Homo sapiens: one gene and its partners. The protein of the gene in region 4 purifies or fractionates together with the protein of the main gene of each other region. This does not show direct contact. Each region holds a gene or a part of one and is shown on either strand. Other genes may lie near its edges. The genes, in order: LIX1L, NEK10, KDM3A and EIF4H.

What was found.
Region 1: the proteins of EIF4H (region 4) and LIX1L fractionate together in Homo sapiens (co-fractionation; one large-scale study listed by BioGRID). This does not show direct contact.
Region 2: the proteins of EIF4H (region 4) and NEK10 purify together in Homo sapiens (co-immunoprecipitation; one large-scale study listed by IntAct). This does not show direct contact.
Region 3: the proteins of EIF4H (region 4) and KDM3A fractionate together in Homo sapiens (co-fractionation; one large-scale study listed by BioGRID). This does not show direct contact.

What each region holds. Positions count from the first base shown.
Region 1 is NC_000001.11:145,952,498-145,961,368, forward strand, and holds the start of LIX1L (LIX1-like protein), read right to left. Parts: upstream 5,521-8,871; 5' UTR 5,431-5,520; coding exon 5,139-5,430; intron 1-5,138. Other genes in the region: ANKRD34A (ankyrin repeat domain-containing protein 34A), read right to left, coding at 7,772-8,871.
Region 2 is NC_000003.12:27,286,883-27,295,234, forward strand, and holds part of NEK10 (serine/threonine-protein kinase Nek10), read right to left. Parts: intron 6,771-8,352; coding exon 6,706-6,770; intron 4,705-6,705; coding exon 4,602-4,704; intron 4,509-4,601; coding exon 4,380-4,508; intron 3,873-4,379; coding exon 3,735-3,872; intron 862-3,734; coding exon 816-861; intron 1-815. UniProt on the Homo sapiens protein: Plays a role in the cellular response to UV irradiation. Mediates G2/M cell cycle arrest, MEK autoactivation and ERK1/2-signaling pathway activation in response to UV irradiation.
Region 3 is NC_000002.12:86,484,286-86,492,560, reverse strand, and holds part of KDM3A (lysine-specific demethylase 3A), read right to left. Parts: intron 7,620-8,275; coding exon 7,532-7,619; intron 6,833-7,531; coding exon 6,702-6,832; intron 3,244-6,701; coding exon 3,124-3,243; intron 3,042-3,123; coding exon 2,902-3,041; intron 1,681-2,901; coding exon 1,504-1,680; intron 1,421-1,503; coding exon 1,286-1,420; intron 523-1,285; coding exon 442-522; 3' UTR 1-441. UniProt on the Homo sapiens protein: Histone demethylase that specifically demethylates 'Lys-9' of histone H3, thereby playing a central role in histone code.
Region 4 is NC_000007.14:74,191,356-74,194,494, reverse strand, and holds part of EIF4H (eukaryotic translation initiation factor 4H), read right to left. Parts: intron 1-3,139. UniProt on the Homo sapiens protein: Stimulates the RNA helicase activity of EIF4A in the translation initiation complex. Binds weakly mRNA.

The DNA of each region.
Region 1 (8,871 bases), on a different chromosome or scaffold from region 4:
GTTGAATAACAAAAAAGAGAATAATTTAGTTTTTGCCTTTAGGAGATAAAATATACGAATGTCTAAGTGGACAGGATGGGAATGAGAGGTAGTGATCATTTTCAGCCAAAATAAAAACTTTTTTTTTTTTTTGAGACAAAGTCTTGCTCTGTCGCCCAGGCTGGAGTGCAGTAGCATGATCTTGGCTCACGGCAACCTCCACCTCCAAGGTTCAAGCAATTCTCCTGCTCAGCCTCCCGAGTAGCTGGGATTACAGGCGCACGCCACCACACCCAGCTAATTTTTGTATTTTTAGTAGAGACGGGGTTTCGCCATGTTGGCCAGGCTGGTCTTGAACTCCTGACTTCAGATGATCCTCCCACCTCAGCCTCCCAAAGTGCTGGGATTACAGGTGTGAGTCACCGCACCTAACCTAAAACATTTTTTTTTTTTGAGGCAAGGTCTCGCTCTATCGCTGAAGCTAGAATTCAGTGGCACAATCACACCTCACTGCAGCCTTGACTTCCTGGGTTCAAGTGATCCTCCCACCTCAGCTCCCTGAGTGGCTGGGACTACAAGATGCATGCCACCATGCCTGGATAATTCAAAAAAATTTTTTTGTAGAGATGGGGTCTCACTATGTTGCCCAGGCTGGTCTCAAACCCTAAGGTTCAAGCAATCCTCCTGCGCTGGCCTCCAAAATGCTGGGATTACAGGCATGAGCCATTGTGCCTGGCCAGGATAAAAATATTAAAACAATATATGAAACTACAGTAAAAATTTTATATCATAAGGATAAATACAACCTTGCCAGGAAGGTAATTAACAAAAATAAAAGAAAAAAGTAATAAATACAACTTTGTGGTGGGGAAGCAGGAATAAAGAGATAATGAAGTTAAGAGGTGAGTAAAAAGATTCTCCTTGATCATAGAGGATGGCGAGAATAGACTGACTCTATTCACATTATTATGGAAGATAGGGAAGCTAGTTAACAATAGTTCATCTATTTCCTATTTCAATGTTTAGAAGGTACATCTGCCCCTAAATAGCCCACGATCCACAGTCTCTTTGGAAGGAGAGACTGCAAAGTAACAGTGACTTTGGGAGGGGACTCTGGTAGACTGAATAATGCCACCTGCCAAAATGTCCATGTCTTAATCCTTGGAACCTGTGAATGTGACATTATCTGGCAAAGACTTTGCAGATGAGTTTAAATGATCTGAGATGGGGAGATGACCTAGATTATATAGGTGGGCCCTAAGTGCATTCACAAGTGTCCTTATAAGAGGGAGGCAGGATGGGCACACTGACTCATGCCTATAATTCCAGCACTTTGGGAGGCCAAAGCAGGATGATCACTTGAGGCCAGGAGTTCAAGATCAGCCTGGGCAACACTGTGGGATCTCATCTCTACAAAAAAATTTTTTAAAATCAGCCAGGTGTGGTGACATGCACCTGTAGTCTAGCTACTTGGGAGGCTGAGGCGGGTGGGAGGATCACTGGAGCCCAGCAGTTCCAGGCTGCGGTGAGCTATGATTGCACCACTGCAGTCCAGCCTAGGCAACACAGCGAGATTCCATTTCTTAAAAAAAAAAAAAGGAGGCATATTTGATGAAGAGGAGGAGTCACGGAGGCAGAGATTATAGTGATACAGCAATAAACCACGTAATAAACCAATGTCAGCAGCCACCAGAAGCTGGAAGAGGCAAGGAATGAATTCTCCCCTAGAGCTTCTGGAGGGAGCACGGCCCTGCCAACACCTTGATTTTGGCCCAGTAATACTGATTTTGGACTTCTGGCCTCCAGAACTATGAGAGAACAAATTTCTGTTGGTTTAAGCCACTAAAGTTGTGATAATTTGTTACAGCAGCCACAGGAAACTAATATAGGAACTAATCCAGCATTTCCAAAAATTGGAAATATTCAGCCCAACCCATTTAACTCCAGTCTTACAGAAAAGAAGCTATCTGTGATTCTGAGGAAAAGGAACAACTAAATAGAAAATACTACACAAGATTCATTTGTTCAACTTAGTGAAATAACAGGGCAAAATCTCCAATCATGCAGCCATATTGTAACATAAAAGGATAGCAATACTTCCAAAACAACAGGTTTGAAGAGGGAAATGTAGCAATTACAGAGCAAGGAAAGTGAGTTACTCGATCCTGCCAGTTTAGAGATTGCCAGATGTCAAACATGAGAAAGAGACTATATGCCATAGAAAAAAAGGGTGCAAAGGAAATGGCAATGCAGAACAGTACCTATCATTTGCAGTTTCCAAAGCATTTCCAAATGCACAATAGTAGCAACCATACTGAGTACCAGGTGCTGCATGCTTTATATTCGTTGTCTTATTTAATCCACACAAAACTATCAGGATAAGTATTATAATACCCATTTTACAAAAAGTAAGCAAGTTAAGGAACAGGCCAGAAGTGGCAGAACCAGGATTTAGAAACAATGTTTGTTTGGCTCCAAAGTCAACCCTCTTTGTATTGGGCTGGCCTGCTTTACTACACCATTAATCTTTATACATGCTCTGTAATGTAAACTGTGAGCTCCATCAAGATAGGGACTAAATATCTGCCTTGTCCACCACTGCATCTGGTGATCAATAAATATTTGGTAAATGAATGAAGAGAACAGATGAAGCATAGAGAGATTAAGCAACTTCTCCAAGATCACACAGCCAACTATTTGACAGGGCTAGGTCCTCTGATTACAAATCCCATGCACTACAAACTTATCAAGATCCTACAGAATACTGAGCTGTGTGTGTATCTTGGGTAAGTGGGTGAGGGAGGCAGATAAAGGACAGGAAAGCTTTTTAAAATAAATAAGTAAATACATACATACATACATATATACATACATACTGATAGCCCACATGAGTGAAGGTAGATCTAAAGACTGATTGGAAAAGGTGGATTTGGAGCATTCAGGAAGAAGATGAAGGATGTTAATTGAAGATGATGTGGTAAAGCATTGCTGGATGAGGGAATGAATTGTCTAGGCAGAGGCTAAAGTAAATTGTATTCAGGGGAATACAGCCATTCCCCCAAATAACATGCCATCAGTCACAAGGGTATGTGAATATATGCCAGTGGCAGCTTTGCCTAAGAATTGAAGCAGAATAAGTGATTCCATGTGGTAAAGGACTTCTGAGCCAAATGGGCAGAGATTCTGCTTGCCTGAAGCTGAACTATCTGCCAGACTTTCCTAAAGTACTGGCTGGACACTCAGACTGGAAATGAGAAACTCAAGAATAATGAGAAAGACTGCGATGGGAGGTGGGGAGATAGGAAAGAAAATCACCACGAAGTGTGAAGCCTGATTAATTGCCCTTTGTCAGTACAATCCCCTTGTTCCCTCATCCTTGCTAAGGAAATGAAAGTTTTTACAGGATGTCCAGTTTGGGAGCCAAAGCAGAGGCTCTCCAGGTAACACAGACAAGAAAAAGGGTGTACTCTTCTATAATTTTAATAAATGCCTGTAAGTTGCCAAGAGGAAGGCTTCAGATTTAGTGTGACCACTCTAGGCTACTCCTGTGCCCAGAGGCAAAGACCTTCCCTTGATCTTGACTTAGAGACTTGAAGCAGCAGGATAGTAGCTAATAGCAGTTCCATCACATAGCCTTGTTAAATCTTGGGATTACATTGGAAAAATAGTATTTCCTCATGAGTTTCAGATTCATCCATTTGTATCCCCAGCACCTAGCAGAGTTCCTGTCTTATAATAGGAGTTCAAATTGTATGAAGAACAAAGGGAAATTGATGATGAATGAATCATTAGGCACATATAGCAAAATGGCTCTAAAAATCTGTTTTCATAGGAATTTTTGGGTTTACATTATTAGGATTTAAGAGTGGGAAAAAGTGAAGCATGTTCTACTTAAGGAACTATGAACCAACAAATTTGAGATAATAATCATTTTTAGGTTATATGTCATTTGCAATGTCTCAGTCAATCCATATTGTAACCCTTGAAGAAACTGAAGCTCAGTGAAATTAAGTCCCTTCCCCAAAGATTTGGCTGGTAAGTGACAAAGATCTCCAAAGCCTGTGTGTGCTCTTTTCACTAAACTTTCTTAAAAAAAGAAAATCTACAGAAAAGCCCTGTAACTTTTCTCTGTATTATTGTTAAACAGAAAGTTAAAGATATAGTCACTTCCAGGTCAGGCAGGACCTGGCCAAGCAGACAGAAGGGATGTCTTGTAAATTCCAGGCTTAAATTCTGTATTCCACACCCTTCACTATATATTCCTTATTACTTACACTATAAATCTGGAACTCAAACTCAGACAGGAAACTACCCTAGTTAAACGAAAACAACAAAGAAAACCCTCACATCCCTCTTTCCAGAAATTAACGAAGTTTTCTAACTGAAATAGAGTTTCTAACCTGGCACATTTCCACAGAATTTAACATTGAAAGAGCCAAGGCCTGGGATTTATCCTCAGTTCCTGGGCAAGGGCCAGGAAAACACAGCCAGACAGAAAGGCTGGAGTTGTGAGTCTCCATACTAAAAAAGATACCAAAGTAAGGTACTGAGCCACAGGAAGCTGCTGTGAGTTCAGTGGTACAGGTCCGGATTTAAATACACAATTACTATGAGTGACTTGTGAAGGCACTACCTAGTTCCCCAGTAAATCTGAAGTTGCACTGAAATTTCAGAGTGAAGGTAAGTAAGTAAAGAATTTAACAGTCAAGGTTAAGGGGCTGGAGCAAATTAACAGGTGAGTCCAGGAATTGCAGAGATCACAGAGGAAAGACTGAGAGGGTATGGATGAGAAATTGGATCTGAAATAAAAGACAGGATCCCACACAATGAGGACTGGTTCTCAAAGGCAGAGAGATGTTAAGGTATTAAGCTGGAGGAGGAATTCCATTTCTAAAGGAGAAAAGCTTAGGAAGAAAAGAGGATTGTATCTGAAAAAGAGTCCCTGGAGAATATATTAATAACTCAGTAAAGGGGAGGAGGTAGGAGGCTTAAACGTGTGTATGAGTGTGTGCGTCTGTGCGTGTGCGTAGCCCAGAAGGAAACTCCCCAAAAGGAAATGCATGTGAGGGCTCCACGCCAGGAAAAGCGATCCGGAGGACTGTGGGAGCAAGGCTCCCTTACAGAGGGTGTCGCGCAGGAGGCCAGACCCGCAGACTCACCTCGGCCATAGCCCTGCGTGTGCTTGGCGAAGCTCCTCACCACGGCCTCCACGGCCTCTCGCAGCACTGCCGGGCTGCCGGCGGCGCCGGGGGGCAGGGGTAGTCCTGGGGCCCCAGACAGGAGCAGCGGCGGCGGGGGCGGTGCGGGAGGCGGCGGGGCAGGCGGGGGGCCCGCAGGGGGTGTGGCGGTGGCGGCCGCGGCCCCAGTCACTCCGGGCCGCAGCGCTCGGAGAGTGCCCCTCCCGCTGGTGCCCACACCAGGCTGCAGCCGCTGCGCTCGCATAGTCTCCATCCCGGCCGCCAATGGAGTAGCGCCCCGGAGCCTGCCAGCCTGCCGAGCTAACGGTCCCAACCACCCCAGTCAGCTAGCGCCTGGGGACTCAGGGCGGTGCCAGGGCCGAACCTTCAGTCAAGTGGGGGCGGGGACGAGCTAGGTCCCATGCCAATCACCAGTGATGGGGCGGGAGCTGGAGGGCTCCTGCTCCGCCATAGGCAAATTATTGAGGAGGGTGGGGATTCTCAGAACCAATTGCAAAGAGAAAAAGCGTATCCTCTGAAAGGCAGACGCAGAGCTTCGGCGCGTCTTTGGGAGTCCTGTGGCAAGCACTAGAAAGCAGGACAGAATCTTGGGGCTGGGCTTGAAGAAAAAAATGGGCCTAGATGCAAGATTGGGGAGGATTGCAGACAGAGTAGAGATCATTTTGTCCTACCATTTCATTTCACAGATTGCAGGTGAGGATATTGTGGCTCAGAGAAGTAATTCGACTTGTCCAACATCATATGCAATTGGTGGTGGAGCTAAGGCAAGAAAGATACTGACATTTAATGAACATAAACTATGCAATGTACTGTAGTGCATGTCTTATTTACAATCACAATCACTAACTAGATTTTGTTATTTTAGGGATAAGGAAACAGATGCTGAGGGAAGCTAGAAAAATGGCCAAAATTAAATAGCTAAGAGATGGCAAAGTGGAATTCAGAGTTTAAGCATAGGTGTTCTGATTCCCAATATTTTTATCTTTTTACTATGCCACATTGTTGGGTAAATTTCTGAGTTCACTTATTCTAAGTAGAGGAAGGGAATAAGAGAGAGTGGGATGGGCAAGTCTCTTTGCCTCCCATTAGAGTGAGAAAGAGTTAGGATACATGCAGAAAATTAGCAAACTGAGAAGTCCAGTTGGGGGAATTAAGAAAATTACCCTTGTTGGTATAATATGTCAGACTGGGTTCCTCTGATTACTTTGCACACACACACACACTTGCACACATGCACACACACACACTCTACATACCCTTTATCATGTGGTCACCAGGCCATTTTTGCTTAGGTGAGATTATATTAACTGCTTCCCCCCATCTCTCCTACAGTGGCTCAGAAATCAAAGATGGGGAAATAGAGGCCAGAAGTAGAAGAAAATAGAAGAAACACACTTGGTGAAATGAAAATTAGACCCTGAATAAAAACTGTGAGTAGTCAAGAAATAGGAAGTTTCAAAAGGAGACAGTTAATCTACTGGGATATATCTGCTGATGATGGAGGGAGGAACTCTTTGTAGGAACCTTAAAGAATTCAAGGTTGGACATAGAGGAAACTGGAGGAAATGAAATCCTGTCAAATGCCTTAAAATCTTCAGGACACAGGACACTTGCCTTTTCTCTATAGAAAAGTTGGTTTCTTGGAAAGAAGGTGGCTGGAACAGCTAAGTATCCCTTGGATAATTATAGCTATAAGTTAGTGTTACCCTCCCTCCCCATTCCTCATTCCCCATACCCACACCTCCAGGCAGAAGTGACAAAACAGAGACTTCTGAACACATTTATTTGATATGTCAAGTGGAGAGAGGAGTGATTTAGGGTTTCTCCCCACTTCTACCTGTGGGGGTGTTCATAAGCTCAGACAGACAGAAGAGCAGCTTAGAGCCCATGACCCACCCCCTGGGAAAATGAGACAATCTGTTGTAGTTGTTGGAGGAACAGGGTGGGAATAAAAAGCAGGAAGTTGAGAAGTGAAGTTGAGAGCAGTAAAGACAGCAGCAGAACTGAGGCTGGGGGTTGCTGCAGGAACCCCCAAGAAGAGTGAAAAAGATATCCTGAAAAGTGGTTGGGGTTAGAAGCAGGGTGTGAATAAGGAGCCAGGCCTGGAGAAAGAAGCAAGACCTGCAGAATGGGCTGGGATGTCCACGGAGAGAGTGTGCAAAATCATGATAGGCTGTGTTTCAGGGCATACATGGAAAGCAAGGGATTGCTTCTGCAGGAGGGCAAAGACATCGGAGACTGCCCATAAGTAAGGGTTCCCTACTGCTTCTGAACAAATGCAAGAGAGTTTGGGACCCTAGCCCTGTGTGTTTATTGATATGCTGTGCCTGTAGGTACACAAGTAATCCCATATGCATGTGAAATGACCAGGGCATGAATACATGTGTGTATATACCCAGTAAATAGAGTACTTATTCTTTCTTGCTAATAAGAGTACTGTGCTTATGGACACATGTTTAACCATGTGTGGGTGCACTGTGCACCCATGAGCACATGCAAGAGATCCCTTTGTTCGTGGTGTGTGTGTGAGCTGGTTCTCCCACCTATCCCATTAAGGTCCTAATCCCCACCCTCCTTGGCTCCTCTCACTCCTCTCAGCGCCCTGGCTCCCCAGGCCCACCTAGACTCTGGAAGCCCCCCAGCAGGCGGATCTGCTCAGTCTGCATGGAGTGGCGTCTCACCAATTTGCGCTTGGTCCTGGGAGAGCCTGGCGCCCCGGCATAAGGAGGGGCAGGCAACGAAGGCGCCCGACCTCCGGGTTGTGGGCGAATGTCAGGGATGGGAGGGTGGGGACTGACGTTGAGAGGGGGTAGGAAACCCGGCCGCGTTTGCGAGATGTGGTCCAGGAGCAACGTCCCCGAGCCCCTCCGCTCCAGCAGCCCCGGACTCCGCCTCCTTCCGCTTAGCGGAGATACTGCCCCTGGCAGACTCTCCTGGGACTGGCGCGGAGAGGGAGCCGAGCCGGCTGGAGGGAGGGTCAACGGGGAGGCGCTGTATCGGCGGCGCTCCAGGGACAGGCGGCTGGACTCAGGCGAGTCAGGGCAAAGGTGTCCAGGGGTGTCCAGCTCCACTGGCTCCATGCGGCTCAGTTTCTGCCTCAGCCCTGAAGGGGGACCAGACTCCTGAGCTTCTGGTGCTGTGTTTCGGCGAGAGAGAGGACCCCCGCTAGTCACTTTCTCCGCCCATGGGGGCGGGTCCTCAGGGCCTTCGGTGCTGTGACGTCGGGAAAGACGGGGTCGACCGGTCAGGGTCAGGCCATTGAATTCGGCAGTCAAGCGCTCGATCCCCGGTCTCCCTTCAGTGGGTGGGACTGGTTGAGGAGGGGCCACTAGGCCCCAGGGCTCGGAGTTGAGCCTTTTGAGTGGTTTTGGGGGATGGCGTGGTGGTTTGGGGAGCGGCTCGGAAGGGGATGGGTCATCGGGGGGCTTAGGAAGAGGGAATTCAAATACGTCCCGCTTCTCCTCTTCTTCCTGGGCGCGAGGGGATAACATCCCACGCCCTCCTCCTCCAGCGGTCTGCAGTTGGATTTCCGAAGGCGACGTGCAGAACCCCGGGCTAGGAGAGGCGGGAGCAGGGTCCTCCACCCCTGGGGATGGTGGAGAATTGAGATACTGCCGGGTCTTCTTGGTGCCTGAGGGCGAGGTATCGGTGGTGATGATGATGACCTCCGTACCCTTGGCCTTGCAGGCGTCCA
Region 2 (8,352 bases), on a different chromosome or scaffold from region 4:
TTTTAGCACTGAGTTTTTCTGAGTCATCTAGGGGAAGGGAGATGGGTAAAATTGTAACAAATGGCAAAATACACACACAAAAGGTTTTCTTAAATAACAATAGCACTGAAAAAGAGGTAGTCCGGAAGCCCCAGTCATTGCCTTATGTCTCTTTAAATCATTCTTCAAGTGGAGATTTATTTCGACATTTCATATGTGACACATATCATTAAAGCTTAGCAATACTTGTATTATTTCTGTCATAGGCCCTACTTAAAAAAAAAAAAAAAAAAAGAGTGGCTGAGTTTAGCTTTATCTGTTTTGGTTCTAGTTCAGCATTCCATCATACCTGCAGAAAGCAAGCCTGGCTGCCAGAATCAGTCTGGGCTCCATCGCCACCTTTGTGGCATTTACCTGAACTTCAGGTAAAAGAAATCTCAAAGACCTAGCTCTCTCCAACTTATTTTGGGGATGGAAAATGACACCTGAGTCAACAAAAACAACTTTCTTTTCTTAAGGAAACCACCATCCATTAGTTTTCTTTTTCCTTGATCCTATTAAGTGATTTTTTTGTATATGAGAATAGCAATAACTATTTTGGTTTGTTCATGCGTTTTTCACACAGGCAGCTAAGTATTTTATAACTATCTTCAGGTGACTGACTAGGTCACTGTTTCACTAGTCAAGAAAGTGATGCTTAAGACCATCTACTGTCATATTAACAAAAAAAGGTCAATAAAATAGTTGATTAGGTTTCTTTTGTGACATTCTGATACAAAAATATATGTGACAAAAATGTTTCCTTATTTAGAAATATCATGAAAACTCATACTTACTTTCCAGAAATGTTTTGTAATAACGTACAATGTTGGGATGATAAAGCTATAAGAAAATAAATAACAAACATGTATTGCACTGCTTCAAAATACAAGTTTTTTCACTGACTACTTAGTTGGACTTCATATTTGAAAACTACAAAGAAATTATATTTATTTACAAAACTAAGCATTTCAAGATATCATCGAACTGAGATTGTTGTGATTTTTAAAAACTTGTTGCTTATAAACTGATCTGAAAATAGCAATCCTCTATAGCTTTATTAAATAAAATTAAAAACGTTCTATCACCTAACTTTACTATCGAACTTAACCAAGAGAACTATAGAGGTAGAAGGAACCTTAAGAATTCCTTTAGCACACCTTGTCACAACCCGACACACAGACTGTATAAAGGAGAAAAGTGAAATGCGGTAACTTCTGTTGACTACAAATATTCATTGTTCTTTACCTCTCTCTACCATCTAAATATTTATGGAAAGTTTGTGCCTATTTACACTATTTCTGTCTTTCTATGCTCTCCAAAATGATTAGTAGAAAATAACATAATCTAAGAGTCGACTCAGTTTAAGTCATAATAACAGTTGACAAGGACTTCCTACTTAACCAAGCTTTAGTCAGGCTCCTCTGAGTCCTCTTCGTGACTAGGCCTCATCCTTGGTCTGTCAGTTTTAGCAACTTATATCCTGCTAAGTCAGTTTATGGAAAAATTTCCCACCCTTGACATCCAATTAAGTTTCTCATCCACTCACCCTTGATATCTAACCAAGTTCCTCTTAGTAAACTTCCATCCACTGACCCTCCCTCACCCTGACCATTGGCTCTGAGTCCCCAGCTGTCCAGTCCTCGAATTCAGAGTTGGGTTCAATCTCTCTCCTCTATTACAATAGTTTGACTTCTATTGCAATAGTATTGAATAAAGTCTTCCTCACCGTTTTTAAAAAATGGTGCAATTTCTCTTTGATATAAGTTAAGAATGTTAGTGGAATTTCTAATTTTTTAATTAAAAAAGATCATTTTCTAGAAGAATGCTAATAATTTTGTAGTTTTTGCTTATAATTTGAGTTTCTAGATAAAATTTGTCTTAGAACAGTCACCATCACATCAACAAATGGCTTGCTTGCATCTCTTTTTGGTCTTTCTGCACGTCTTTTTGAAGGGAGATTGCTAGCTGTCCACCAAAAACCTGCTGTCCCATTGCAATACAGTTGAAGCTGGACATGGCTTCCCAGTTAGAGAAGATTTCTCAGCCTCCCTTGAAGCTGGGGGTGAGGCTACCACTCAGTTCTGACCTGTGGAATATGAGAGGAAGCATGTGTGCTTCCTGTGTGAACTCTAAACCTTGGGAATAGCCCTCCATGATCCTCCTCATCTCACCTTGGATGTGAGCATGGCTATGGCAGTTTCAACCACACAGATGAAGACAGTGCACTAGAAGGTAACAGCACAAGAAGAGAGAAAAAAGCCTGCATCCCCAAATGATCGCATGGAGCAGAGAACACCTTCAACCTGGTTTACTCACTTTGGGATTGTTCCGTGAAAGAGAAATAACCCACTGTACTGTGAGTCCTCTTTCTAAGCACCTGCATTTGGGATCCTCTTTGTTAATGCAGGTTAATCTTAATGTACTCTCCATTCTAGCCCCATTTGTTTTGCTTCTGCCTGCCACTACCTCCTCCTTTAAGGACTCAATGTTATCATCCTTTCCATCAGTTTGATCCTCTAGTGAGAGGGCAATTTTGAGTTACCTCAAAGCCCAAGCATATGCTTCCTATCTGACCCTAGTTTGACAGTTTCTTTTCTTAGGAAATGTGCTAAAACAAATAATCTACTGCATCAACTAGCAAGTGGCCAGCAGATCGTAAGCAATATGTGACCAGGTAACCAACCAGAACCATATTCTGGACCTGGCTCACCCACAAGGACTAAAACCAAATTTGGGTCCAGATGAAAACACTGGACTGGCTTAGGTCAAAAGCCCTGTTCTAGCCTTGTGCTACAATGAAAGAGCACACTGTGGAAGGCTAGATGACCATACAAACACATGAACAAACTACACATGAACAAACTTTTTAAAGTCTAGTCTATTAGTATATAAAATCAACTATAAAATAAACAATTAATGATAATATTTACTATAATGTACACACTGGAGTAGAACTATCGATTTTTATGAACAAAGGTCTCCTTGTTTATGGAATTTGTTACATCCCAACACAGATGCTATGCAAATGTGACCAGTGGAGGACAAAAGCAGCAAAGCTGATAGTGCACCACAGGAATTATAAATGAACAGTATTCGTGATGAATGTGCAAATAAGGAAGGCTGAAAAAGAAACCAATGTGTTCTTGGATCACACAAAGAAATTCCATTTCTCTTTGAAATGTTTATTCTTCCTCCTCAAACAAACTTTCATAATGAGAGTTAATTGAGCTGTTACATTATATCAGAGTATTCTGCTCATGCCAATACATAATAACCCAACTTGAAAATCTACATTTTAGATCTAATAAAGTCATATTTGAGGAATGTTAACAGCTTGGTTCCATTTGGCAAAAGTCAAGAAACTCTTAGTCATATTTCTATGTATGTAACTAAGTAACCAAATATCCTAAAATATAAGGAGAAAAGAATAGATATGCTCACAATGAAAAGAAAAGGATTTCTCATATATGATGCATTCTGTACTGTAAATCCGATTGTTTTGCATCCATGACCCTGATATAAACTCCAGACAGTGTTTTATGCTTCAATGTCAAGCCTTAGGAAAAAAGCTGGCAAAAATATCACTGCTTCAGTGTCAATTATTTCACATGGAACTAGTTCATAAGCAGCATGGACAAGAGCACCACAACTCTACTTTCTTGCAATGACATGTATTTAAGAAAAACATCTTCAGAAACAAGGAAAACATTTACCTGCTCTTTAATTATTGTTAATTCAGAAACAATATTCCTTACGCTGCTGTCTCGATCTTTCTTATCCTTTCCAAATGCTGGGTTATGTAAATTGACCTCTTTCATTGCTAAAAGATTTTGACCACTATGCTTTCTAACCTAAAATAAAGAAAAACACAACAACAACAAAAGGAACAGGGTAAAGAAGGAGAAGAGAGAAAGAGGAAGAAAGAGATAGACTAACAAAGTCACATGAGTAACTAAGTCATATAAATAAGTCACAGAGCATTTAAAGTTCCAGCTGTATTTACATTAAGCTCAGCTCAAAACATCAAAACACTGGTATCCCCTGGGTCAGTCTGCAATACTTAGTAGCATTTTTTAATTTAGAGATTGCATCATGCATTGGGAGAAACTATTTTGAATACCTTTGTGAGAGATTAATAATGCCTTTTGTCTTAAAAAGTCAGTGGCCAATTTCTAGAGCTTACAGCTAAAACAATATTAGTGTGGCTATCTCTGTTGGACAAAAACAATCATTCTAATTTTCATATCTGTTTGCTATTTTTCAATGACAAGAGTTCTAATTCAATTGAATATCGGTGTGCAAGTGTGACATCCGGTTTGGTTGGGAGTATCAGAAATGTTCCCCAAGGGGAAAGTCACCTTGTAAACACAGCCAAAAGCTCCACTTCCAAGATGATCCAAAATTGCATAGTTGCCTATATATTTCAAAGGAGCTTTGTTCTGATTAATGCTTTCAATATTTTCAGCAATTTGCTTCAGTTCATCCTCCTAATCAAAATATAAAAAGGAAATGGGTTTCTGTGATAAATTACATCCTGACTACATAGCAGCCTGCCAAAATATTGAAAACTCAGGACTTACCACTAATAAATTCAGCTTGGATACCAATTCTTCATAAGCACTGATATCACGTACATAATGCCCTATGTCAATGAAGATCTCAAACAAGTCTGTGGGGAAAAGTCTACAGAGAATATTACACACACTTAAAGTAGAACTTGGACACAGTTGATCATTACTTCCCTTTTTTATTTTTTTGAGACAGAGTCTCACTGTGTCACCCAGGCTGGAGTGCAGTGGCACGATCTCAGCTCACTGCAAGCTCTGCCTCCCACGTTCACGCCATTCTCCTGCCTCAGCCTCCCAAGTAGCTGGGACTACAGGTGCCTGCCACCATGCCCGGCTAATTTTTTGTATTTTTAGTAGAGACGGGGTTTCACCATGTTAGCCAGGATGGTCTCGATCTCCTGACCTCGTGATCCGCCCGTCTTGGCCTCCCAAAGTGCTGGGATTACAGGTGTGAGCCACCGCACCCGGCCCATTACTTCCCTTTTGAATGCAGCTCACTCACTGATTAATTACATGAAACAAATTTAACTTCTTTTGGTTATCAACAAAGTTGGGGAAATAATATTCCCCAACTTATCTCGAAAAAATACACTATTTACAGTTTTTGAGAGGTAAGAAAAAAACAAATGGAGAAGAAAGTTCTAGAGATCTGCTGTACAACCTTGTGCTTACAGTTAATAACACTGTACACTTAAAATTTTAAGAAGGTAGATGGCATGTTAATATTTTTACCATAATTTAAAATTAGATATGATACAGATTATACAAAAATCTTACTTGTAAGATATTTGGGGGTATAGGCATTGAATACATTAGAAGGAAACATTTATTGGGTGTTTTTTTGGGTGTGGAGCACTTTCACAAATGTCATTTAACTCAGATTTTAGTAAGAAGTAAATACTAACCCAACTTTTAAATAAAAGTTTCATGAAAATAAAAATACTGGTACATGAAAAATAAAACAAATAAAGAGATTCATTCATCATTCCCAAGACACTGGTTTCAAGGGGTTTTAAAATCTTTGAGTTCACTAAAAGGGATGATTTAGAGCTCTGAAATGAAAGATTATAAAGAATAAGTAGCTGGGTGTGGTGGCTCACGCCTGTAATCCCAACACTTTGGGAGGCCAAGGCGGGTGGATAACCTGAGGTCAGGAGTTCAAGACCAGCCTGGCCAACGTGGTGAAAACCCATCTCTACTGAAAATACAAAAATTAGCCAGGTGTGGTGGTGCATGCCTGTAGTCCCAGCTACTCAGGAGGCTGAGGCAGGAGAAGCAACAGGATGAGCCTTTGTCAAAAAAAAAAAAAAAAAAGAGAACTAATTTTACTTCATTTTCCTCTAAATCCAAACAGTATAGAAATAAAGTAACAACATAAAATGCTCCATGCTTTCTGCACTTGATCTCAGCCAAAAGGCCGAAAAGTGACGCTCCATGCTTTCTGAACAAAAAATACTATATTAACTCAATACTTTATGTCTATTCTGCCTTATTAACAAAATTTTAATAAAAACTTGGGCCTATGATTTTGGCTAACCCACCTAACTAAATGGTGTGCAGAACACCACTGAGGGAACCAGTGTTTGCTTCCCGAAATGGTGACCTTTTGGTCAGGCTCACCAACACAGTATCTTGACCCCAGAACATCCAGCCTCCCCTTCAAATGAGCTCCTACACCATCAAAGACACACAAAAAAACAGTTTGTTTTCCCTTTGATTAAATTCCCTTTGATTAAAGTGAAATTACCCGATTGACTTTCAAATTTCTAGCTGGAAAAAAAGAAGCTCATATTTTAATGCCATCTTTTAAAAATGTTAATATCTTTAATTATCAAAAAGAAAGCTAAAATCACAGCAGTCACATGTAATTAAGGGGAGTTGTATTGATATAGCAATTTATGCTCTTTCATCATCATTCTGTTAATATTCAGTGTGGCTGGATACTGAATCACTACAGTAGCTCACTTCTATCTGTGAAATAAGAAATCTGAAGACACATGGTTTGCATACTGACGCATTATTTTCCTTCTGTTGCATCTAAGCCAAGTATGTGAAAACAGTTCAATCTAATGATCTCCTAAACCTAATGATCACTTATATTTCTCTAACCTCATACCTTTTAAAGAGTGGTCTGTTTCTTTCCATACTGAAGAGAAATCTCAAGGCTCTGAAAGCATAACACTAGAAAACAAAAGGATATGTGATTCTCAAATGGTAGCTCAACAAATTAAAACATTTTCAGGAAAGAATTAACAGGAAGTAAACATTAACGTGACTTTATTGTAAGTGGCTGGTCCAAGTTGGAGCCAAAGCTTCTAACTGAAAACAAAAAACACCAACACCTGGGGTCATTCCTGTATTTAAAAAGTGTTTATGTTGTAGAATGCAGGGAATATTGGCCTTGCTTCACTTGGTACTCGTCATTAATTTCTTTCTAGAAAGTACAAAATGAGTACAGAGACAAGAAATAAAATTCCGATGCTGAGAAAACCAAATGTCTAAAGATTTCCAGGAGCTCAAGGTTTATTTTGTTTCTAGCCTGCTATGTATACCTCAATATTTATATGGTTTCTGTGAGAAAATAAACACTAGAAATGATGACATATAAAAATAGCCGCAGGCACACTGGATTCAAACTTGACAAATTGGTCTCTTGAGTAAAGAGTCTTAAGCATTCCCCAAATAGAACAATCTACACTAACTCCCTAGAACGCTCAGAAAGAGGCCTGTGAGCCTTTACCTAGGAAAAATAAACATCTGACATTTTGCAGTACTGAGAAAAAAGAGTGTGCCCAGCCTGCAGCTGTGCCTGCACAATAGGCCACCATTGGAGTGATCAGGGTTTGGTGAATCAAATCTGGGATCATTTCCTAAAATCAGTGATCTGAACACAGAAGGGTCCCATACAAAATTGCCCAGAGAGGTGAGGCCGGTAACAAAATGACATGAAGGAGCCAGGTGAGAGCAGTGGAGACTGTGAGAAAGGGAGAGCATGCATATTCCTCAAAAGCCCTCCATCTGGAATTCTAAAAAACCCTCTACTGGCTTAACGAAATGTCTCTGCAGGATGGGTTTGTCTTTATCTGTTTAACAGCACAGTGTCATATATCTGTGATGCACTGAAGAAATCAAGTCCCATGCCTGCACCTTCCCGTTGGTAGCGCTCCAAAAACCCCTGCCTGCCAGCACAGAGACACCCCGAAAGAGTCTGCTGGGTTTGGCCATCATTTTGGATGATAACTCTTAAATCAGATTGGAGACAAAGGTTGTTTCTTTCTTCCTTTTCAAAATGACTTGGGGGAAAAAAAAAGATGAGCTACAACTATTGCAAAGACTAACTTTAAATCAGATTTTGACATTAGGGCCACTGCCCCCCGCCCCCACTCTGCCAATACCCACTCCTCAAAAACGAACATAGAACCCTGCGTAACTGTTCCCCTTTCTTACATGTGAGCCCTCAACTCCTGGAGCACTGCCTCCCCAAACCACACACCCCAGTTCCACTGAGCAGCTCACCCTTTACTCAGCTCTCCCAACACCCACTCCTCAAAAATGAATGTAGAACCTGGCTAACTGTTCCCCTTTCTTACATGTGAGGCCTCATCTGCTGGAGCACTGGCCCCCACAACCACACACCCCAACCCCACTGAGCAGCTCACACTTCCCTCAGCACACTCTAAGCTCACAGCTTTCACACTTGGTGCATGCTGTTCCCTCTGCATGGAATGCCCTTCCACCCTGCAGCAGATGCCATTGGTGCCCC
Region 3 (8,275 bases), on a different chromosome or scaffold from region 4:
AACTGCAACATTAGCTGTCACTTCCTCCATTGCTCTTCTGGACCCTAAGGGATGAGGGAGGGGACTCAGACACAAAACACAACCCAAATAAACTGTGCAGTGATTCCTAATAGTTATAAACCCAATCTAAGTTGTCCAAACAGCTGAAGAATAACTGCAGGTATTGTTCCAGAGCTGATACGAGGTTTTGCTTTTACAGCCTGGTAAAAGTTCTGCACTAGGTGAGAAGTCACAGTTTAAGGATGCATGTTCTGTAAATAGTTACTACATATACACATTTACTGTCTGTAAACACTAGAAATATACATTAGACAGAGTACCCTCACAAGTTGGGTACAGTTTAAAAAAGAAGATGAGGTAACATGAATCTCAAAGTCCACAGGAATCCTGCCTGAAGAGTTTGAACAGCTGCCTGTAATTCATTTCCAATGTGCAGGGAGATTAAGGTTTGCCAAAACTGGATTCACTGGCTTTCAGCATAGCAACTGCATCTTTCACTGCATGGTAGATAACATTCTTCACCTAAAAATAGTAGGAGAAAATATGGGCATTTTACATTTAAATCTAAAACCTGTCACTAAGAATAAGCTTCCTCCTACTAATTTTATTACCTTCTCTCAGAATTTAAAATTCAATATTCGTATGAAATGTCAACATTGCAAAAGGTCCCTGGGCTCCTTCAGACCAGTATTTCACATACATTTTAAACCCATGATTTCAAGAACTCATTTTCCCCCTTTTAGAGGTTTTGATACCACGTAGACCTACTCACAGTGAGTACAGGGAGAGGCAAGTTCCAAGGTACAGCTTTTATCATTTTTCCCTTATTTTCCAAACATGAAATTATGTTACATAATTCATTACTGAAATCCTTTTGAAAATACCACCCCCTCAGACCTCTTTGAGTCTCAGAGATTCAGTTCTGCTCTACCTAAGAGTGATGAGAACACTGCAGCACTGAAGGTTAAGCACTGTGTTCAAGACCCCGACAGGCAGCTGGGCCAAGATCAGAAGTCACATCTATTCATTTTCAGTACTAAGGCCTTTCTCTGTGGGGACAGTCCCTTATAGATTCTAAACAATATCAAATCAAACCAAGGTGAGATTTCCTCTTGTTCCTCCCTCACTTAAGTAGATAGTAGTACTAGATATAAAGCAAGTTCCTCGACTCACTGTGTACTAAGTACGATATGGCCAAGTTCACTGACTCTCTTTATAAGGTGAAGAATGGGCCATGAAGCCATAGCCATAGCCAAAGAATGCTAGGAATTGGTGCTATTTTTACCTGTAATTTATCTTCGTGATTGGTATGAGTCTGTGACAGATATCGGAATTCCTGAGTAAGCCAGAAGCAGTGTTTAACATGCTCTGGAGAAACAAAATCTTCAGCCACTTTGATGCAGCTATATAAGTTATGAACCTGAAAAACACCAAGTAATATATCAGTAACAAACCCAAAAGTTCATGACATAAAGAGATTAAAGAAAAAGTAATGATTCTTGCCTGATGTGGAGCTCCTGCCGGGATAAACACCACATCCCCAAGAAACTGTACAATAGCCCAGCCTTGAACTCCATACTCTTGATGAAGACGTTTTCTTAATGATCGGTCTAAATACCAGCTTTGATCATGAATAGGATCGTGGTCTGCTGGGTTTTCTTGACCTTGCTCTTCTGATACCTAGAATACATTCAAAATATTATGCAACTCAGTAACATGCTAAGGCCCAATAAGCCATTTTTTTCCTCTAAACAGTGTTGGCAGTTCATAAATGTCAGGCCTTCTTCAACTTAAGTGCCCCCATTGGCAGAAGACGACTAGTAGTATCAAAGACTTCAGCTGAATGAACCAACAGAAGAATGACGAAGAAAATGTGATGTCAGTTCCCATAAACCATGACTGACAGGCTCTGCATAAGTTTGTAAATACTGTATTTAAACAATATTTTAGTCTAGATTTTTAAACATAAGTAGGCTCAGTATCCTTATAAATGAACTTGTTTTAAAGTTATTAGAAACCTGCCTTTACTTAATCTGACTTACGAAACAGTCCCAAAGACAGCTGCAGATTAGACTTGTTTATCCTTGATCCAGTAACTGGTAAAGCAGAGACTCAGAGTGACAATATCAAAAGAACAATATGGTGACCAAGCCGGTTTTCTGGAAGAGCCAAATGATCCTTAGCCAGAAACACTTTGATTCAAACAAATGCTTGTTAAAGACATACTTGGGGCCAGCTAACAGGTTACGAATGTTCATATCCAAGACTCATGAATGACTGAAGAATATCAGCCAAAGACACCTGAGTTGCAACCGGCAGCCTCAGTGCCAAACAATTTTAAAACTGAACACGACTCATCTTTCTAGTTGCCTAGAATTTCCACACATAGCCCTTGCTGAAAAAAAAACCTGCCAACTACAGGGGAAACCTAGAATCTTCCAAATCCCTGCAACCCTTGCTAGTAACAAGTAGGACCACTTGCTACATGACAGTGGACAAAACCAAACTTAGCAACTCACTCAGAACATGGTCACTCAGGGCCAAGGATACATGAACGTCTGAAGTGCTCAGATTCTCAAGGCAATAAAAACAGATATATGCTGGGAGATGATCAGATGAACTAACTTCTAACTTGAAAGCAGAGAACAAAAATCTCTAAATGCACTCTAACACAAAACACAGACATAAAAGACAAGGCCTGCTTTTTTTAGAAGTGTAACCCTAATCATTTAGAATCCTTGTTCCTTAGCAACCACCTTCAGCCTATTCAATCTGACAGGTACAGATTTAACTTTTCAGGTTGTGACAATTCCCCTAGCCAAGCCAGTCAGTTCACCACATGTAGTAACATAATATTGCTATTCCTTATGCCTCTGTTCACACATGCCATAAGCAGCACACCTTTTTAAGAAATTCCCTTATCTTCTCCGTGTCCTTTGCAGCATATATGTGCCACAGTGCTCCTGGCTTCTCTTTTCCTTCAATAAATCGCTTTATTGTGAGTTCGTCAGAATCTCCATCTTGGATGGTCTTAAGGACTTCTAGAGCAAGAAGAGAAAGCAGATATCAGACCACAAGCCCTGGCTCAAAGAGTAAGCCCTCCTTTTATGCTCAGCACCCTACCTTCTTCTTGCTCACACTGTCCTTTGGGAATTCCCACATAGACCATGACATTAGCTGCATCAGATACATCTAAGTGAAGATTTGTTGTTCCATATTTCCGATCTTCAGGAGTGATTAATCCTGCAAAAACAAAGTGCCTTAAGTTTTACAAAAGACAACAAAGGCTGCCACAGTCTTTCCACTACCTACCTGGGGGATGGTAGGTCCCTGATTGACTCTTCTGCTGAGAATAAAAATTCTGGATCAAATTATTGCAAAAAAATTCTTTAACCAATCGATGTGCTAGCAAGAAAAGAAGGAATACTCAGAAGCCAAAAACAGCAGGAAATGGAAGTGGTTAAAGCAGGCTTCCGAAGCTGGGATTTGCCAAAAGGACATCTGCTAGATCAAGTGAGCTCAGGCTTTGATTGTTGCCACAGCCTAGGAGTTCTGGGGCAAGAGACAAAGCCCAAGGACCACTCGAGATGGGGAGTCCAAGGGAAAGCACCCACCCACACACACACATAAACCTGGAACGTCAAATGGCTATCATGAGTATAAGAAGGAATACTGCCCAACGCATTCCTTGGTTCTCTCAACTGTAAAAGAGGAGGGGTGAGGAGTGAGCCAGAAAGACAGGTCCCCCACAGTGTTCAGTCTGTGGCTAATTCCTTGCTCACAGGAGAAAGCTCACCTTGCTCAACAATCATCCTGAAGCTTACCCTGCAGTCACTTTGGGCAACCCATTGTAACACCAGGACTCTGCTTCTTAGACTGGGCAGTAGGGAGAAGCACAGCTTGTAGTGAGCAAGCAGCGGCTGTTTTCTAACCTGCCAGCCTCTGAAAACGCCCCATAATACTGTTTTGGAGGAAGGCTTTATCTCTGGCTTGCCTGGGGCTTTGGTTTTAGAGGGGCTATACTTTTGAGAGGGCACATTTCTTCACTCCAGCTTGGGACCAGGGCCCCCAGAGCCCTGTTGTACTTTCCTTTCTTTCCAGCTTGCTGAAATATCAGTCCTGGGAGTAGGTAAAGCGTTTGGTATTAGGGTGAAATCATAGGATAGTTGAGAGGATGATGAAAAAACATAAAGAGAGAAGACAATGAAACGATTATGGCAAAAAGTTAAAAGCTGTTATATAACTGGGTGATGAGTTATATGGAGTCACTACCAGACTCTCAAGTTTTCACTGTATTTGAAAAATAGTTCCATAGTAAAAAGCAAAATTTCAGAAAAAAGCAATTAATGTAATAGAAATAAAATGAATGAAATGAACACATGGATGATATATGACAGCATGGATGAATATAAAAAATCTGATTCTATTTATATGAAGTTCAAAAGCAGGCTAAAAACTGAAAGAATATTGTGCAGGAATACAAATATATATGTTAAAATTGTAAATATAAGCAAACGATAAACACAAACTTGAAGATGGTGGTTAGACTAAGGGCAATAGGAAGAGGATGGAGCTGGCAAGAAAAGTAAGGAAAGGAGACTAGGAGGCAAAGCCTCAGCAGGACTGGCTGCCTGCTGATCCAGCCAGTGCCACAGTGCAAAACGAGCAAGGAAATAACTGCTGCCCAGCCACTGGCCCAAAGTCCACTGGATCCCAGTCATGGGTAACTGTACATTGATAAAACCAGACTCTAAACCATGGTAAACTGAGATGAAACCAAAATTGTAAAAACATAATGGTCAAAGGGAAAGGAGTGCTAGACAACAAAACATCCTGAAACAAAACACCATGGACTTTTAAGGGGGAAAAAAAGCTGAAACAGTAGGGGCTGTTGGGTGATGGGGAGTTAAGAGTGGGGGAAGAGTAGGGAAATGGGCTCTAGCTTGGAAATCAGGAGATCTAAGTACTAGTTTCAGACCTGCCACTAGCTGCCCCTTGGAGATCCTGAACAAGTCAATGCCCCTTCTACTGTCCGCAAGTCCTGGTCCTCATTTGCAAAATGGGGGGTGTTGCAGGAACTGAAGAGAGGCTGGATTATATGATCTCTCCAAAGAGCCTTTGCACTTACTCTCATGGAAGAGTCACAGCTCAATCACACAACCTTTGAAAAGACCACTCTTTAATGATGTTTACAATAAGATATAAGGTGTTTGAAAATGAACACATCATTATTTTCATCCTTCTGAATGCTTGCTTCTGGATGGGAACCATTTTGTCATAGGAAAAGCTTTTATAGAGTAACACTGCCATCTATTAGTGTCTAGGGGGAAAGACCCGCTGCCAAGCTAGTTAAACCACGCAAGCAATTCTTTTGAAAATTTCTCAGATACCCACCTTTAAAGCTTCAGGATTTCTATAAAGCATGGATAAACTATACAATTTATTGGAAAAATGCTCTTATATACTTAAGTTTGCCCAAGATCCCAACCATGCAGCTGCTTTAATCAGTCTCTGAGGGGCTCGAGGGACAGGACCTCGAGAGAGCACACTGCAGACCCACAGCACATGGAGGACTCACCAACAGAGACCTGAGAAGTGAGGAACAGGCAAGAGGCCTTGTGCCCACCGGGTCTTCTCACCCACACACAATTTCTCTGGTACCCCTACCCTGGCAGAACTATCTTGGGCATGGAGACTGCTGGGAGCTTGCACACAAAAACACTCCCCTGTCACAACAGTCCCCAACTACACTCCTAGTGGTTCCCTGAGCTGACTCAACCGTAACAGAATTGTGGGGCTGGAGTCCTTGCCCCTCCTTCCCTTCCCTCCCCCAACAGTCTTTGGAGAACATAGCGAAGACAACAACAGACCTTGTCCTTTTTGAGAAAGACACCCACAGGTCTAAGGCTAGAAATGGAAAATGACATGGAAGTAATTATGGCAGGAAGAAATAAGTAATTTCCAGGAGGACTGGAAAAGTAGGGGCCAAATAGTAAAAATGAGTAAATAAAATTCACTGAAATATTCAAACAACTAGAACTGCATTCAACAATACATACTTCCTTCAAAATGGCCAACTCGAATCCAGCCCTAATTAAAGGCCATGTGTAAAACTGACGAAGATCTCAGTTATAATGATGATGAAAGAAAGCTCTGGTAAATGGAGAAACCAATCTTTATCCCAGGCATCCTCCTTGTTAGACAGTGAGTATTGAGTCATGTCAAAAGAATAAAAGTCCAACTCAAAGGGTACTTTGAATCCTAAGTAACTAACTTCTACTCAACAACACAGAACACTGCATTTAATTGTAGCAGATGTTAAGACAGCTAGAATGCCAGCAGATTGACCTAAATGTCCGAACACTGAAATCACTAATAAAAGTACATTCTCTCAATGATGTATCACACACCATTAAAAGTCATCTAAAGACTATTAAGTAACATGTAAAGATTTTACAATGTAAAATTAGGTACAGTAAAGGGAAAAACACAAAATTGCATATGCCCTACAACTGCAACTATGAAAAGAAACACACAAACATGTGGCCAGGGAACGAAAGGAAATATGTAAAAATGAAAGCTGTGGCTGTATTACGCATTAGGATTATGGGTGTTTTCCACCTCTCCCTCCCACAAAATCAATTTTCCAAACATTTTGAATTGTTTTATTTCCATTTTAAAGTTAGCCATCTCCTCCTTACCATAAGCATTATACATCTTGGGGCCCAGATCTGGCCGAACAAAGTAGTTTGGCAGCCTAGAGGCCAAATTCAGTTTGCCATCTCGCCTTGTGTACTCGGGCAGTGGAATGTTGGCCATCAGATCATCAAACCTAGAACAACAGAACCAGGAATTTGCAAAGTTAGATTGCTTTTCTAATTCATTATTGTGTAACCTGTTTTGTTCCTTCTACACCAAAAGGAACAAATCCATCTGTGATCATGCAGACTGACAGCCATCAAATATTTAAGATGAGAAGTACAGCAGTTACAAAGATGTCTTCTCTCTCTCCTACAACACACCAATGTGTCAAAATCAGCTGTAACCGTTCAGACAAAAGATCTCAGCAATAAATTCTAGACAAAAAGTTATTCTTAGAGATATATCATTGATTAGTTGTGACACCCTTTTCAAAGTTTCAAGCTCAGTCAGGAAAATAGATCTACCCAGTAGATGTCTTCTTGTCTAACTCAGTGCTGTGACTACATTGTCCTGACCCTGACAGGTCAGATTCCACAACTGCCTCCAAATCAGCCTTGTAAGAAAAAGTGAGCCTCTTCTCTAGCAGGGCCTACCATGGAAAATCTGTGGTGTTCCATTAGTCAGCCAGGCCTAAAAGCCAATCACTTCTTCATCTCATCTAAAAATAAACATGCCTCCAATGACTACAGACTAGAAATGAAAAATCAGTGGCAGTATAATTACAGAACTTTTGTTATTTTCTTGAAAACTGTTTTCTCACTACCTCAAAAAAGAATTTATCCTACCAAGTGAAGGACAGAATCATCTCTCCCCACCTTCATAATCATACCTGGAAGGCATCATATCTCTAAAATCTTCTCCTGGTGGCCAGTCCTTAAGTTTCAACACCATTGGTTCTTTTTCATTTTTCAAACGATCTGAAAGGTAAACAGAATGAACTATTACTATTTATAATTCAGAAACAGACCAAAATAAATGACAAATTAGCATTTTATGCCTCAACAATACAAATAAAATATGTCTCTGCAAAATTTTCATAACCTGATAAATTTAGTATACAAATATTACTTTTCCTTAATTTTCCCCTCCTACCAACTATCCACCATTTTATTTCTGCAGTGTAAAAAAATCCATTTGTACCCAGGAGGCAGCAAGGTGCAGCAAAATAAAGATCACCAACTAATGGATCTGTGTCAGGGCCTTGTCTTTCCTAGAAGCTTATTAAGCTGCTACTCATTCTTGGGAGATTCAGCCGCTCCCTTTTGCCCACTGCATGTAGGTGGTATTTCAACAGCTGTCATCGATCCAATCTGCTCCTCCTCTACAGTGTTCCAGAAGAAGTGAGCAGCATCCCAACTAACCAACAGCAATGCACGTCAACCATCAAGGGTCACAGGTGTTTAGTAAACCCATTTTTCTGAGGCCAGCATGCAACAGAAATTACTTATTCTGCTCAGAGAGAGAGACTGACCCTATCTGATGTTCTGTCCAGGGACAACAAAGACCAACAGAACAGGTAATAATGCCTCAGTGTTTAAAAGCATAAACATTGTAACAAGGAAGGGGAGGAGAG
Region 4 (3,139 bases):
TTACATGCTCAGCTTGCATGAAAAGTAGAAAAATATTAATACCACGAAACTGTATTTTAATACGGCTTAAGCAAAACAAGAAAGCCTCAAAGCAGGTTGAACTCTATTTTCTAATAGAAATCTATACAGCTATTTTAAAAGATAAACCTGAAATTTAGAAGTATTTACAACTCAGAACACAAAAATCACAAGAAAACGCTATATGAAGACAAAATAAAAACACAAAGTCCCAATTTTCCTGTTTTGGCTGCGTTTTAGGTGTGGGCCATTCTACAAGCAAAGCACCTGTGTGGTAAACAAAGCAGTTATCCGAAATTGGCCATGCCCTACACAGAGGGGCATGAGCAGAGAGCACAGCGCCTCACCCCCACCGGCGCCTCCTGTGGGGGCAAAGCGTTCTTTCCCCATTCATTTGTGTGCCTGCTAAGTGGGCTCTTGGCAGAAGTAAACTGCATCTCATTTAGAAATGCTGAATTCCCACTGGTGTGTAGGAGGAAAGAGTATTTTCTCAATGGTCTTAAGGGGCCTTCAGGCTTGTACTTCAGTGAAAGCTAAACTTTAACTGTATAACCTACTGATGTTAAAATTTGGTAAAAAGACTGGTTCACGCCTGTAATCCCAGCACTTTGGGAGGCTGAGGTGGGAGGTGAGTATAGGAGTTCAGGACCAGACTGGGCAACACAGTGAGACTCACTCTCTACAAAAAACACAAAAATTAGCTGGGCATGGTGGCGCACGCCTGGGGTTCCAGCTACTCATGAGGCTGAGGCAGGATAATCGCTCGAACCTGGAAGGTAGAGGGTGCAGTGAGCCAAGATCGTGCCATTACACTTCAGCCTGGGTGATGAAGTGAGACTCTGTCTCAAGGAAAAAAAAAAAAAACTGGCGAAAAGAAGTTAAACCATAATTAAACAAATGAGCTTGCTGCTGTTGGTTGCGCACTCAGGGGGTGCCACTGCTACTCTCTGCGAGAGTGGTGCCAAGGCTCCAAGCTTTCAGGGAGCTTGTCTTTGAGAAGAACCCCCAGAGCCCGCAGTATGCACTATACAGTCATCCTCATTATCCACAGATCCCATATTTGCAAATCCACCCAGTCGCTAAAATTCATGTGTAATCCCAAGCTAGATACCAGCAGCATTTCTCCAGTCAGTCCTGGACCTGCACAGATGCGACGATCCCAGCTGAGGCAGAAAACGATAATGCTCTGCCTGTTTCAGTTATTAGCTGTCAAGTCTTTTCACGATGAGTGTCGGGTGTTTTGCCCTTTGGGCTTTTTCTGGTGACATCGCTGTCTGAAGTGGCCCCAGGTGCAGTGTGAAGTGCTGTCTGCTGTTCTTAAGTGCAGGCTGGCTGTCAGGTGTCTTACAGACAAAACCGGTGTGGGATGAGCTTTCTAACAGGCTGAAATGATGGCACCACAGACTACTTACTACAGCTGGCCCTGAGTTCAATGTTAACACTATTAAATGAATCAACACTAACATTAAATGAGGCGTCTTTAAAATCAAGGTCACATAGGCTGGGTGTGGTGGCTCACGCCTGTAATCCCAGCACTCTGGGAGGCAGAGGTGGGCAGATCACCTGAGGCTGGGAGTTCGAGACCAGCCTGACCAACACGGAGAGACCCCGTCTCTACTAAAAATATAAAAATTAGCTGGGTGTGGTGGTGTGCGCCTGTAATCCCAGCTACTTGGGAGGCTGAGGCAGGAGAATCGCTTGAACCCTGGAGGCGGAGATTGCAGTGAACCGAAATCATGCCACTGCACTCCAGCCTGGGCAACAGAGTGAGCCTCTGTCTCAAAAAAAAAAAAAAGAAAAAAAAAAAAGTCACATAAAGCAATGTTAGGTATGATCAGCTGACGAAAATGTTGTGATCTGTAGCACACAGGAGCAGCACCGCACGGGCTCATTCAGTGTTCTAGCAACTCCACAGAACCACCTCCAATGATAAGCGCTGACTGCATCACCTGTGGTGGGGGCCGATTTCTATTCTTTAAAGGTGGCAAGGGTTTTGGAAACCAAGGGATCTCACACCCAGTTCAGAGACTGAGTTAAATAATAAATTTTAACAAACCAAGTAATGAAAGCAAGTCTGAACAGATTTAGACCAATAAGAGCACTGCTTTAGGGGAAATACACTGGGAGGCATACAGTCGAGTATAAGGTCCTTTACAAAGTATTTTACCCACATTACACAGTTCAGTGAACAAGCCTAGTTAGTATTAAAACATTTAACTTCACGTTTCCCCCAAACTAAACTGTGAAGTGTACCTTTCCACGTGAGTACAAAGTAAATTTACACCCTTTACTATGAGATTAAATGATTTCGACCACCAATGTCTAGCGTGAAACAAATAGCTCACACCACGCTGGTGAAGCAGATGAACAAGGATCTCTCATCAAATCTGTTGGTGGGGGCCGGGCGCGGTGGCTCATGCCTGTAATCCCAGCACTTTGGGAGGCCGAGGCAGGTGGATCACGAGGTCAGGAGATCGAGACCATCCTGGCTAACATGATGAAACCCCGTCTCTGCTAAAAATACAAAAAATTAGCCGGGCGTGGTGGTGGGTGCCTGTAGTCCCAGCTACTTGGGAGGCTGAGGCAGGAGAATGGCATGAACCCAGGAGGCAGAGCTTGCAGTGAGCCGAGATCGCACCACTGCACTCCAGCCTGGGCAACAGAGCAAGACTCCGTCTCAAAAAAAACAACAACAAAAAATCTGTTGGTGGGTTTCTAGGAAGCAAACTATTCATGAGAATCTTCAGAGTTTTCTTTACAAAGCTTAGTTTAACACTGGCTATTTCTGATGATGAAATGTTTTTGCTTTCTTGGTACTTTTCTGTTGCTCTATTTTGTTTTTTACATGAGCAGGTATCATTAAAAAAAATAGCACCATCCTATTAAAAAGTAAAAAAGATCTACTCTCGCAAATAACGTATAAAGTATCAAATTAGCCATTACTCCATCGAGTGAGCCCACATAGGGTTTGAGATGTCACCAAAACACTGCAGTTCCCACCAGAACTGGTGGCGGCCAGGCCATGGCCGTGTTCACTGTGTCTCTGCTTGAGCGCCAGTGGCCAAGCTAAGCCAAGGGTAGAAAGACGTTAGTATGTGGGCAACTTCTATAACACCTGCGA